3 linked regions of the Homo sapiens genome follow. The protein of the gene in region 1 purifies or fractionates together with the protein of each later gene. This does not show direct contact. Each region holds a gene or a part of one and is shown on either strand. Other genes may lie near its edges.

Region 1 (3,655 bases):
AAAGCCTCACTGGGGCTAGGCGCGGTGCCTCACACCTGTGATCGCAGCACTTTGGGAGGCCGAGGAGGGCGGATCACCTGAGGTCGAGAGTTCGACCAGCCTGACCAACATGCAGAAACCCTGTCTCTACTAAAAATACAAAAATTAGCCGGACGTGGTGGTGCACGCATGTAATCTCAGCTACTCAGGGGGCTGAGGCAGGAGAATTGCTTGAACCCGGGAGGCGGAGGTTGCAGTGAGCCAAGATCGCACCAGTGCGCTCCAGCCTGGGCAACAGAGTGAGACTCTATCTCAAAAAAAAAAAAAAAAAAAAAAAAAAGCCTCATTGGATAAGCCGCCTAATCAAACTAATTAGAGTCAAACAAATTAGCTTTCTTTGAAAGTTTAAAGAATGAGGCCATTTTTAACATCAGAGTTGCTTTCTAAATAAACTTAATGAAACTCATGTTGAATTCATGTTTTATTATTAATACAACTCTTCTCCACCCCCTCTTTTTTTTTTTAGGCAACAGTAACTAGTGTCTTGGAATATCTGAGTAATTGGTTTGGAGAAAGAGACTTTACTCCAGAATTGGTAGTATTGCATGTTTTTCTTTTCATAATGTAGGCAAAAATTAGACGTTTTGGGTCAACTGTGGGCCACATATACAATGGTGCTCCTATAGGATTATAATACTGTATTTTTACTGCACATTTTCTTTTTTTCTTTTCTTTTTTTTTTTTTTTTTTTTTTTGAGACAAGGTCTCGCTCTGTTACCCAGGCTGGGGTGCAGTATTACAATCATAGCTCACTGCAACCTTGATCTCCCCAGCTCAAGCAATCCTCCTGCCTCAATCTCCTGAGTAGCTGGGACTACAGGCGCATGCAGCCACGCCCAGTTTTTTTTGTTTTTTGTTTTTTGTTTTTTTTATTAGAGACAAGGTCTCACTGTGTTGTCCAGGCTGGTCTTGAACTGAGTCCAAATGATCCTGCCTCCTCACCCTCCCAAAATGCTGGGAATTACAGGCATGAGCCACCATGTGTGCGGCCTTTTGTGTTTTTTAAATAGAGACGAGGTCTCACCATGTTCCCCAGGCTGATCTCAGACTCCTAGGCTCAAGTGTTCTTCCCACCTTGGCCTCCCAAACTGTTTGGATTACAAGCATGAGCCACTGAGCCCGGCTCCTTTCCAGTATTTAAATATGTTTAGATCTGGCCAGGCACAGTGGCTCATGCCTGTAATCCCAACTACTAGGGAGGGCTGAGGCAGGAGGATCACCTAAGGCCAGGGAGGTTGAGGCTGCAGTGAGCCATGATTGTGCCACTGCACTGCACTCTAGCCTGAGTGACAGAGTGAGACCCTATCTTAAGAAATAAATATATGGTTTTTTTGGATGCACAAATGTTTACCATTATGTTACAGTTGCCTACAGTATTCAGTATAGTAATGTGCTATATAGGTTTGTAGCCTAGGAGCAATTGGCTATGCAATATAGTCTAGGTATAGTAGACTATACCATCTAGGTTTGTGTAAGTATACTCTATGATGTTCATCCAGGGTCAAAAATCACCTAACAATGCATTTCTCAGAATATATCTCCCTTCATTAAGTGATGCATGACTGTACTTGATGTGATGCTACGGTATTTATTTATTTTTTATTTATTTGTTTGTTTTGACATGGAATCTCCCTCTGTTGCCCAGGCTGGAGTGCAGTAGCGCGATCTCGGCTCACTGCAGCCTCCACCTCCTGGTTTCAAGTGATTCTCCTGCCTCAGCCTCCCAAGTAGCTGGGATTACAGGCACCTGCCACCACACCCAGCTAATTTTTGTATTTTTGTAGAGACAGGCTTTCTCCATGTTGGCCAGACTGGTCTTGAACTCATGACCTCAGGTGATCTGCCCGCCTCCACCTCTCAAAGTGTTGGAATTACAGGCGTGAGCCACTGCACCCAGCCAGTATTTATATTTATATTTATATTTGTATATGTGTGTGTGTGTGTATATACATATGTATAATCTGAACTATACTTGTTTGTAGTCAAATAAGAAACACTAGAATGTAAATCAACATACTACTTCCTTCATTGAGAAAGTCTTGGAGAAAAAAAGTCAATGAAAGAGTTGATGTATATCCTGGTACAAGGTACAAACTCCTTATCTCATTGCAGACAAGTTTGTTTTTTTTTTTTTTTTTTTTTTTTGAGATGGAGTCTCACTCTGTCACCCAGGCTGCAGTGCAGTGGTGCCATCTCGGCTCACTGCAACCTCTGCCTCCCAAGTTCAAGCAATCCTCCTGCCTCAGCCTCCTGAGTAGCTGGGACAAGTGTAGAGAATATTTAATTTAAATTAAATATTTAATTTAAATGCTAGCTTTACATAGTAAATGTATCCCTTAAAATTTGAGTCAAGTTGAAACATATAATTTTTTTTTATAGAAAAAGAATTCCACAATTTGTAAAAGAAACCTGGATTTGAATCTTTTTCTGTAAGAAAAAGTCTTAACTATTGATTTGAGTTTGCCTGAGGAACCCATTTAGTGTGTTGTATAAATTGCTATTTAAATTTTGTCCTAATATTTTTTAGGTTTCCCCGAAGTGATATGTTGCTTAGAATAAACAAAGTTGTATATACTACTGGTGGAAATACAAATTTGGTATAACCTTTCCAGGATACAATCTGGTGATCATATCTGAAAAACCTTGATGAATATACATACCCTTTGTCACCATTTTACTTGCAATACTTAATAAACTTTCCCCATGTTGTTAAATGAGATTAAACAAGGGAATGTTATTAAATACTCTAAACAAGACACTTAACATTCCCTTGTTAATCCCATTTAACTACAAGGGATGGCTGAGTGGGGTGGCTCACTCCTGTAATCCCAGCACTTAGGGAGGCCGAGGTGGGCGGATCACTTGAGGTCAGGAGTTCGACACCAGCCTGGCCAACATGGTGAAACCCCCATCTCTACTAAAAATACAAAAATTAGCTGAGCATGGTGGCGGGCGCCTGTTGTCCCAGCTACTCAGGAGGCTGAGGCAGGAGGATTGCTTGAACCTGGGAGGCAGAGGTTGCAGTGAGCCGAGATGGCACCACTGCACTCCAGCCTGGATGACAGAACGAGACTCCATCTCGAAAAAAAAAAGAAAAAGGACAAAAACAACATGGTAAACATTTTATTATGTATTATAAATAAAAAAGATGGCTACAAGATGATATTACAACTGATGAAATTGTATTGAAAAAAGGTTGTACAGCCGGGCATGGTGGCTCACGCCTGTAATCTCACCACTTTGGGAGGCTAAGGCAGGCAGATCACTTGAGGTCAGGAGTTCGAGACCAGCCTGAACAACATGGTGAAACCCGGTCTCTATTAAAAATACAAAATTAGCCGGGTGTGGTGGTACATGCCTGTAATTCCAGGTACTCAGGATGCTGAGACAGGAGAATTGCTTGAACCCGGGAGGCAGAGGTTGCAGTGAGCCGAGATCGCGCCATTGCACTCCAGCCTGGGCAACAAGAGTGAAACTCTGTCTCAAAAAAAAAGAAAGTTGTACATACGAATAGGAAAAACAAGAACATTTTTAAAGTGAATCAAAGTTTGATCTGGAATGTTGGGACTGCAGGTTTTTTCTTGTGCTTGTGGTATTCTTCACAGTTTTTCTGCAT
Region 2 (3,655 bases), on another chromosome or scaffold:
TCTTGGGCGGCAGCAAGACAAGATGGTGGATCCCTGCACCATTACCCACCAGAGCCAGGGCTTATATACCATAGGGAAGAAATGTGTACAGCAGTTACAAGGAAAGGCAAGGATGCTATGCAAATCTGCCTGAGAGCAAGATTTGTGCTCAAGATTGTATTGACCTAAGGCAGGATTTAAGGTAGCCATAGACAAAGTAGAAATCTTAGAAGCATTCCCAGAGCAGGAGTTAACCAGAAATCAACATGGTATATCAGCATCCAAGATGAAATTGCTTTAGCCACCGTACTGACTGTTCTCCGCCTGGTCTGGTTCATTCTTGCTGATTGCATAATAATTAGACACCTAATCTTCGAAGGGCCAAACTAAAAAGAGGACAGGAAAATGCCATAGAACTTGTCCTTGTGATCCAATGAAATAGGCAGTGTGGGGCTTAGAAGGCATATGTCCAGGCTGTGGAGGTCTTGCTCCTCAGTGCTGTCAGAGAAGTTGGTGGCAGGGCCTCTGGACTATAAATCTTTTAAAGCTGAAATTTTGGCTGGGCATAGTGGCTCATACCTGTAATCTTAGCACTTTGGGAGGCCAAGGCAGAAGGATTGTTTGAATCCAGGAGTTCGAGACCAGCCTTGGCAACAAAGTGAGACCCATTCTCTATAATAAATTTTAAAAATTAAAAAAATTTCCCAGGTGTGGTGGTATACACCTGTGGTCCCAGCTATTCTGGAGGCTGAGGCAGGAGAATTACTGGAACCCGGAACTTCAAGGCTGCAGTGAGCTGTGATTGTGCCACCATACTCCATCCAGCCTGAGCAACAAAGTAAATGAGACTCTGTCTCTAAAAATGAAAAAAAAAAACAAACTGAAATTTCATCCACTTCTCCTGTATACCTACCAGCCCTCCTCCACCCTTAAAATTTTTCTATTTTTTAATCTAAGCCAAATGTGATGGAAATGATTAGCATGTATCTGTCCCCAGACCAAGTTAGGATCCTGGGCTGTGTAAACAGAAGTAGAACATTTCAAAACTCTGAGGTCATCCTTCAGCTATGTTCAGCTTGGGTCAGGTGCTTGCCGAAATGCTACCTCGCCAGCCAGCCGAGAGTAACAAAGGCCATTCATGGGTTGCCTGTAGAGTGAGACCAAAACATCAGAATTGTTTCCCTGCAGGAGGTTAACTTTCGGATCCTTAATAACAGTTATTTTTAAATTTATGCAGAGTATTTGGGCTGAATAAGTCAGAGGGAATAGGATGACTGGGTGTGAGGTATCAGAGTCAGTAAGTCATCAGATGGGATCTCCGCACATCTTGGGAGGATTGGGTGGCCAAGCTGGTGTTTTATTATTTTGTTCCCCTGAATTATTGATGATATTTATAGTGATATGTTAAGAATTCAGAAGAGGCTGGTAGACTTTCCTGAATGAAAAGCTTTCCCAAGCGAGATGACTTATAAATCTTATAAAAATGCATCCCGTGAATGGAAGATTTCTGCTCCAAAAAAGAACTATTGAAATATTTCGGCACCAGGAGGGTAGTCTGAATGCAAAGATGAGTTTATACAAGCTTCATTCAAGTTTTATTATAATTACTACTACTACTAATAGTGTATTAAATGAAAGTTACCTGCCCATCTTTTCATCTCTATAGGACTTGATGATTAAAAAAACAGACCATTTGTATTCTAGTAGCTTGCAAAGGATTAGGGGAGACAGGCTACCAAACTACCAAGGGGAGGCTTAACATGTTAACTAGGGAGGTGAGCGTGCCCTGCTAGACCACCTGTATCCCCAAATTGAATAGCCACATTACAAAGACATGGCCTTGGGCCAGCTCCTGAGCTCTGCCTTTGAACTCTTGTCAACACCAAGTTTATTCATGTTCTCAAAGCCTAGCGGGTTTACTATTGTTAGCTCCTCTTGGGGTGTCTAGAACAAAGCCAGCAACGCGTTTAAAGTGAATCTGGGCTCACAGATACAACCAAAAGTGTTCTTTTTGAAACACAGAATTTGAGATCATTTTAGCCTATGCTTAAAGAAAGTGTAAAATGGATGGGGGGTTTGATTTTGTTCCTTTTTAGAAGGAGAAATAATAAATAGGATGGTTTGTCTGTAGACCCAGTCCTTTTAAGTAAGGACCCTAAAAAGTTGTTTTCCGGCCCTGTTCTTTCCCGTAACAGGTATTTCTGAGCCTACTGTGTGCATAGTATTATCAGGGTGTTAGGTACACGGTAGACATTTAAAAAAGCGCTTTAGAAGAGTCTTTGGATTTGGCTGGTGGAGAGCCCTAGTGGTGGAGTCCTTGAGTAGCTTGTTTTACTTCCTTAAGAATTGTTACTTTTTCTTTATGTTGATGTAAAAGTGAAAGTGCCACTTTATTACACTGGTTGTTAAAAAATCTGTATCTGTGTGATTTCTTCCCCAATTGCTAGAAAATCCACCCAGAGAGAACACCTTCGGAAAAATTGTTAGCTGTGAAGGAGTTTGAATCACGTAAGTCTTTCTGTGACCAGCCGCGCAGTTCTCTCAGCCACAGATTTCACATGGGTTGGGCAGGATTGAAGCGAGGACGGGCTAGTTTGTGCTCAGAGGAGTAGTGATTTCTTTGATTACTAGTTTTTATTTTTACTCTTGTGCTGTTTCGAAAAGCACTTTTAGCTTTTTTCTTCTGAGTTGACAGGATTGTTAGGAAATAATTAAAGGAGGTAGGAGCTCCCAAAATGAATTATTGCACCCTGAGCTACCTCCTGCTGGCCCTCTTGGCATGCTGAATACTTTTGGATCTTTGCTGAATTGCGTCCTCTAAATAGCTGATGTTCTTACTGAAAGCCGTGAAATCAGGGGTTGTCCAGTTGTTTGACCACGGCCCAGATTCCCGGGCCAATTGGGGGGCCCTTGACTAGGCTGAGGCTGGTTATGAGTCATTGCTACCCATCCCTGACCTCATTGCTAACAGTCAGTCGAAATCTCACGTCCCAAGTGACTTCTAGTCATCAGAGGGAGAGAAGGAAGAAATGGCTTGCTTTCTTTCCTTAGGGTTTGTCAGTTAAACCAAGTAATGGGGAAGAATGTTCTCTGGGGGTTCAACATGTTAGTTTTGGGTTTTTTTTTTTTCGCCCGTTCCTTTCCTCTGTATCATTTACAGCAAAAATAGGATGTAGCTAGAAATCCCACGCTTTCTACTGGGTGAATAATGGATTATTTATCCACAGATCTGGATAAGTTAGACAATGAGAAGAAGGATTTGATTCAGAGTGACATAGCTGCTCTCCATCACTTTTACTCCAAGCATCTCGGATTCCCTGACAATGATAGCCTCGTAGTACTCTTTGCACAGGTAAGGACGCTGGCAGCAGGTAACACTCAGTCTGGCCTTTCCCTCTCCAAGGCCCTCTCCCTAGCAAGCACTCAGTGAAGATGAATGCAAATAGAATGATGGCATCTTCCTGACAACGAAGCTCTGAGCCAATTGGACCGTGTGTTGCCATAGCCTTGCTCAGTGACCTTGAGCAGATCAAGGTCCCCTCTGCTGGCCCTCATTGATGGGTGGAGTGTAGGAAATTCGCCTCTGCCTCTGCCTCACAAAGAGTTCATGAAAACAAAGGAGTTGTCAGTGCCCTGGTACTCTGGCATACTTTAAGCTCTTTGCAAAGAAAAGACC
Region 3 (3,655 bases), on another chromosome or scaffold:
TTTGTACATTGATTTTGTATCCTGAGACTTTGCTGAAATTGCTTATCAGCTTAAGGAGAGTTTGGGCTGAGACAATGGGGTTTTCTAGATATACAATCATGTCGTCTGCAAACAGGGACAATTTGACTTCCTCTTTTCCTAATTGAATAGCCTTTATTTCCTTCTCCTGCCTAATTGCCCTGGCCAGAACTTCCAACACTATGTTGAATAGGAGTGGTGAGAGAGGGCATCCCTGTCTTGTGCCAGTTTTCAAAGGGAATGCTTCCAGTTTTGGCCCATTCAGTATGATATTGGCTGTGGGTTTGTCATAGATAGCTCTTATTATTTTCAGATACGTCCCATCAATACCTAATTTATTGAGAGTTTTTAGCATGAAGTGTTGTTGAATTTTGTCAAAGGCCTTTTCTGCATCTATTGAGATAATCATGTGGTTTTTGTCTTTGGTTCTGTTTATATGCTGGATTACATTTATTGATTTGCGTATATTGAACCAGGCTTGTATCCCAGGGATGAAGCCCACTTGATCATGTTGGATAAGCTTTTTCATGTGCTGCTGGATTCGGTTTGCCAGTATTTTATTGAAGATTTTTGCATCAATGTTCATCAAGGATATTGGTCTAAAATTCTCTTTTTTGGTTGTGTCTCTGCCCAGCTTTGGTATCAGGATGATGCTGGCCTCATAAAATGAGTTAGGGAGGATTCCCTCTTTTTCTATTGATCGGAATAGTTTCAGAAGGAATGGTACCATTTCCTCCTTGTACCTCTGGTAGAATTCGGCTGTGAATCCATCTGGTCCTGGACTCTTTTTGGTTGGTAAGCTATTGATTATTGCCACAATTTCAGCTCCTGTTATTGGTCTATTCAGAGGTTCAACTTCTTCCTGGTTTAGTCTTGGGAGAGTGTATGTGTCCAGGAATTTATCCATTTCTTCTAGATTTTCTAGTTTATTTGCGTAGAGGTGTTTGTAGTATTCTCTGATGGTAGTTTGTATTTCTGTGGGATAGGTGGTGATATCCCCTTTATCATTTTTTATTGCGTCTATTTGATTCTTCTCTCTTTTTTTCTTTATTCGTCTTGCTAGCGGTCTATCAATTTTGTTCATCCTTTCAAAAAACCAGCTCCTGGATTCATTAATTTTTTGAAGGGTTTTTTGTGTCTCTGTTTCCTTCATTTCTGCTCTGATTTTAGTTATTTCTTGCCTTCTGCTAGCTTTTGAAAGTGTTTGCTCTTGCTTTTCTAGTTCTTTTAATTGTGATGTTAGGATGTCAATTTTGGATCTTTCCTGCTTTCTCTTGTGGGCATTTAGTGCTATAAATTTCCCTCTACACACTGCTTTGAATGCATCCCAGAGATGCTGGTATGTTGTGTCTTTGTTCTCGTTGGTTTCAAAGAACATCTTTATTTCTGCCTTCATTTTGTTATGTACCCAGTAGTCATTCAGGAGCATGTTGTTCAGTTTCCATGTAGTTAAGCGGTTTTGAGTGAGATTCTTAATCCTGAGTTCTAGTTTGATTGCACTGTGGTCTGAGAGATAGTTTGTTATAATTTCTGTTCTTTTACATTTGCTGAGGAGAGCTTTACTTCCAAGTATGTGGTCAATTTTGGAATAGGTGTGGTGTGGTGCTGAAAAAAATGTATATTCTGTTGATTTGGGGTGTAGAGTTCTGTAGATGTCTATTAAGTCCACTTGGTGCAGAGCTGAGTTCAATTCCTGGGTATCTTTGTTGACTTTCTGTCTCGTTGATCTGTCTAATGTTGACAGTGGAGTGTTAAAGTCTCCCATTATTAATGTGTGGGAGTCTAAGTCTCTTTGTAGGTCACTCAGGACTTGCTTTATGAATCTGGGTGCTCCTGTATTGGGTGCATATATATTTAGGTTAGCTCTTCTTGTTGAATTGATCCCTTTACCATTAAGTAATGGCCTTCTTTGTATCTTTTGATCTTTGTTGGTTTAAGGTCTGTTTTATCAGAGACTAGGATTGCAACCCCTGCCTTTTTTTGTTTTCCATTTGCTTGGTAGATCTTCCTCCATCCTTTTATTTTGAGCCTATGTGTGTCTCTGCACGTGAGATGGGTTTCCTGAATACAGCACACTGATGGGTCTTGACTCTTTATCCAATTTGCCAGTCTGTGTCTTTTAATTGGAGCATTTAGTCCATTTACATTTAAAGTTAATATTGTTATGTGTGAATTTGATCCTGTCATTATGATGTTAGCTGGTTATTTTGCTCATTAGTTGATGCAGTTTCTTCCTAGTCTCGATGGTCTTTACATTTTGGCGTGATTTTGCAGCGGCTGGTACCAGTTGTTCCTTTCCACGTTTAGCGCTTCTTCAGGCGCTCTTTTAGGGCAGGCCTGGTGGTGACAAAATCTCTCAGCATTTGCTTGTCTGTAAAGTATTTTATTTCTCCTTCACTTATGAAGCTTAGTTTGGCTGGATATGAAATTCTGGGTTGAAAATTCTTTTCTTTAAGAATGTTGAATATTGGCCTCCACTTTCTTCTGGCTTGTAGCCTTCATTTCATTCATTTCATCTTCCATCGCTGATACCCTTCCTTCCAGTTGATCACATCGGCTCCTGAGGCTTCTGCATTCTTCACGTAGTTCTCGAGCCTTGGTTTTCAGCTCCATCAGCTCCTTTAAGCACTTTTCTTTATTGGTTATTGTAGTTATACATTCTTCCAAATTTTTTTCAAAGTTTTCAACTTCTTTGCCTTTGGTTTGAATTTCCTCCTGTAGCTCGGAGTAATTTGATCGTCTGAAGCCTTCTTCTCTCAGCTCGTCAAAGTCATTCTCCATCCAGCTTTGTTCTGTTGCTGGTGAGGAACTGCGTTCCTCTGGAGGAGGAGAGGCACTCTGCTTTTTAGAGTTTCCAGTTTTTCTGCTCTGTTTTTTCCCCATCTTTGTGGTTTTATCTACTTTTGGTCTTTGATGATGGTGATGTACAGATGGGTTTTTGGTGTGGATGTCCTTTCTGTTTGTTAGTTTTCCTTCAAACAGACAGGACCCTCGGCTGCAGGTCTGTTGGAGCACCCGGCCGTGTGAGGTGTCAGTCTGCCCCTGCTGGGGGGTGCCTCCCAGTTAGGCTGCTCGGGGGTCAGGGGCCAGGGACCCACTTGAGGAGGCAGTCTGCCCGTTCTCAGATCTCCAGCTGCGTGCTGGGAGAACCACTGCTCTCTTCAAAGCTGTCAGACAGGGACATTTAAGTCTGCAGAGTTTACTGCTGTCTTTTTGTTTGTCTGTGCCCTGCCCCCAGAGGTGGAGCCTACAGAGGCAGGCAGGCCTCCTTGAGCTGTGGTGGGCTCCACCCAGTTGGAGCTTCCCAGCTGCTTTGTTTACCTAAGCAAGCCTGAGCAATGGCGGGCGCCCCTCCCCCAGCCTCGCTGCCGCCTTGCAGTTTGATCTCAGACTGCTGTGCTAGCAATTAGCGAGACTCCGTGGGCGTAGGACCCTCCGAGCCGGGTGGGGGATATAATCTCCTGGTCCGCCGTTTTTTAAGCCTGTCGGAAAAGCGCAGTATTCGGGTGGGAGTGACCCGATTTTCCAGGTGCCGTCTGTCACCACTTTCTTTGACTAGGAAAGGGAACTCCCTGACCCCTTGCGCTTCCCAAGTGAGGCAATGCCTCGCCCTGCTTCGGCTCGCGCACGGTGCACG

What was found.
Region 2: the proteins of GEMIN2 (region 1) and SMYD2 purify together in Homo sapiens (co-immunoprecipitation; one large-scale study listed by IntAct). This does not show direct contact.
Region 3: the proteins of GEMIN2 (region 1) and IQUB purify together in Homo sapiens (co-immunoprecipitation; one large-scale study listed by IntAct). This does not show direct contact.

The regions. Positions count from the first base shown.
Region 1 is NC_000014.9:39,127,775-39,131,429, forward strand, and holds part of GEMIN2 (gem-associated protein 2), read left to right. Parts: intron 1-505; coding exon 506-574; intron 575-3,655. UniProt on the Homo sapiens protein: The SMN complex catalyzes the assembly of small nuclear ribonucleoproteins (snRNPs), the building blocks of the spliceosome, and thereby plays an important role in the splicing of cellular pre-mRNAs.
Region 2 is NC_000001.11:214,315,653-214,319,307, forward strand, and holds part of SMYD2 (N-lysine methyltransferase SMYD2), read left to right. Parts: intron 1-2,426; coding exon 2,427-2,487; intron 2,488-3,206; coding exon 3,207-3,331; intron 3,332-3,655. UniProt on the Homo sapiens protein: Protein-lysine N-methyltransferase that methylates both histones and non-histone proteins, including p53/TP53 and RB1. Specifically trimethylates histone H3 'Lys-4' (H3K4me3) in vivo. The activity requires interaction with HSP90alpha.
Region 3 is NC_000007.14:123,524,535-123,528,189, forward strand, and holds part of IQUB (IQ motif and ubiquitin-like domain-containing protein), read right to left. Parts: intron 1-3,655. UniProt on the Homo sapiens protein: Adapter protein that anchors the radial spoke 1 (RS1) complex to the A microtubule of outer doublet microtubules in axonemes. The triple radial spokes (RS1, RS2 and RS3) are required to modulate beating of the sperm flagellum.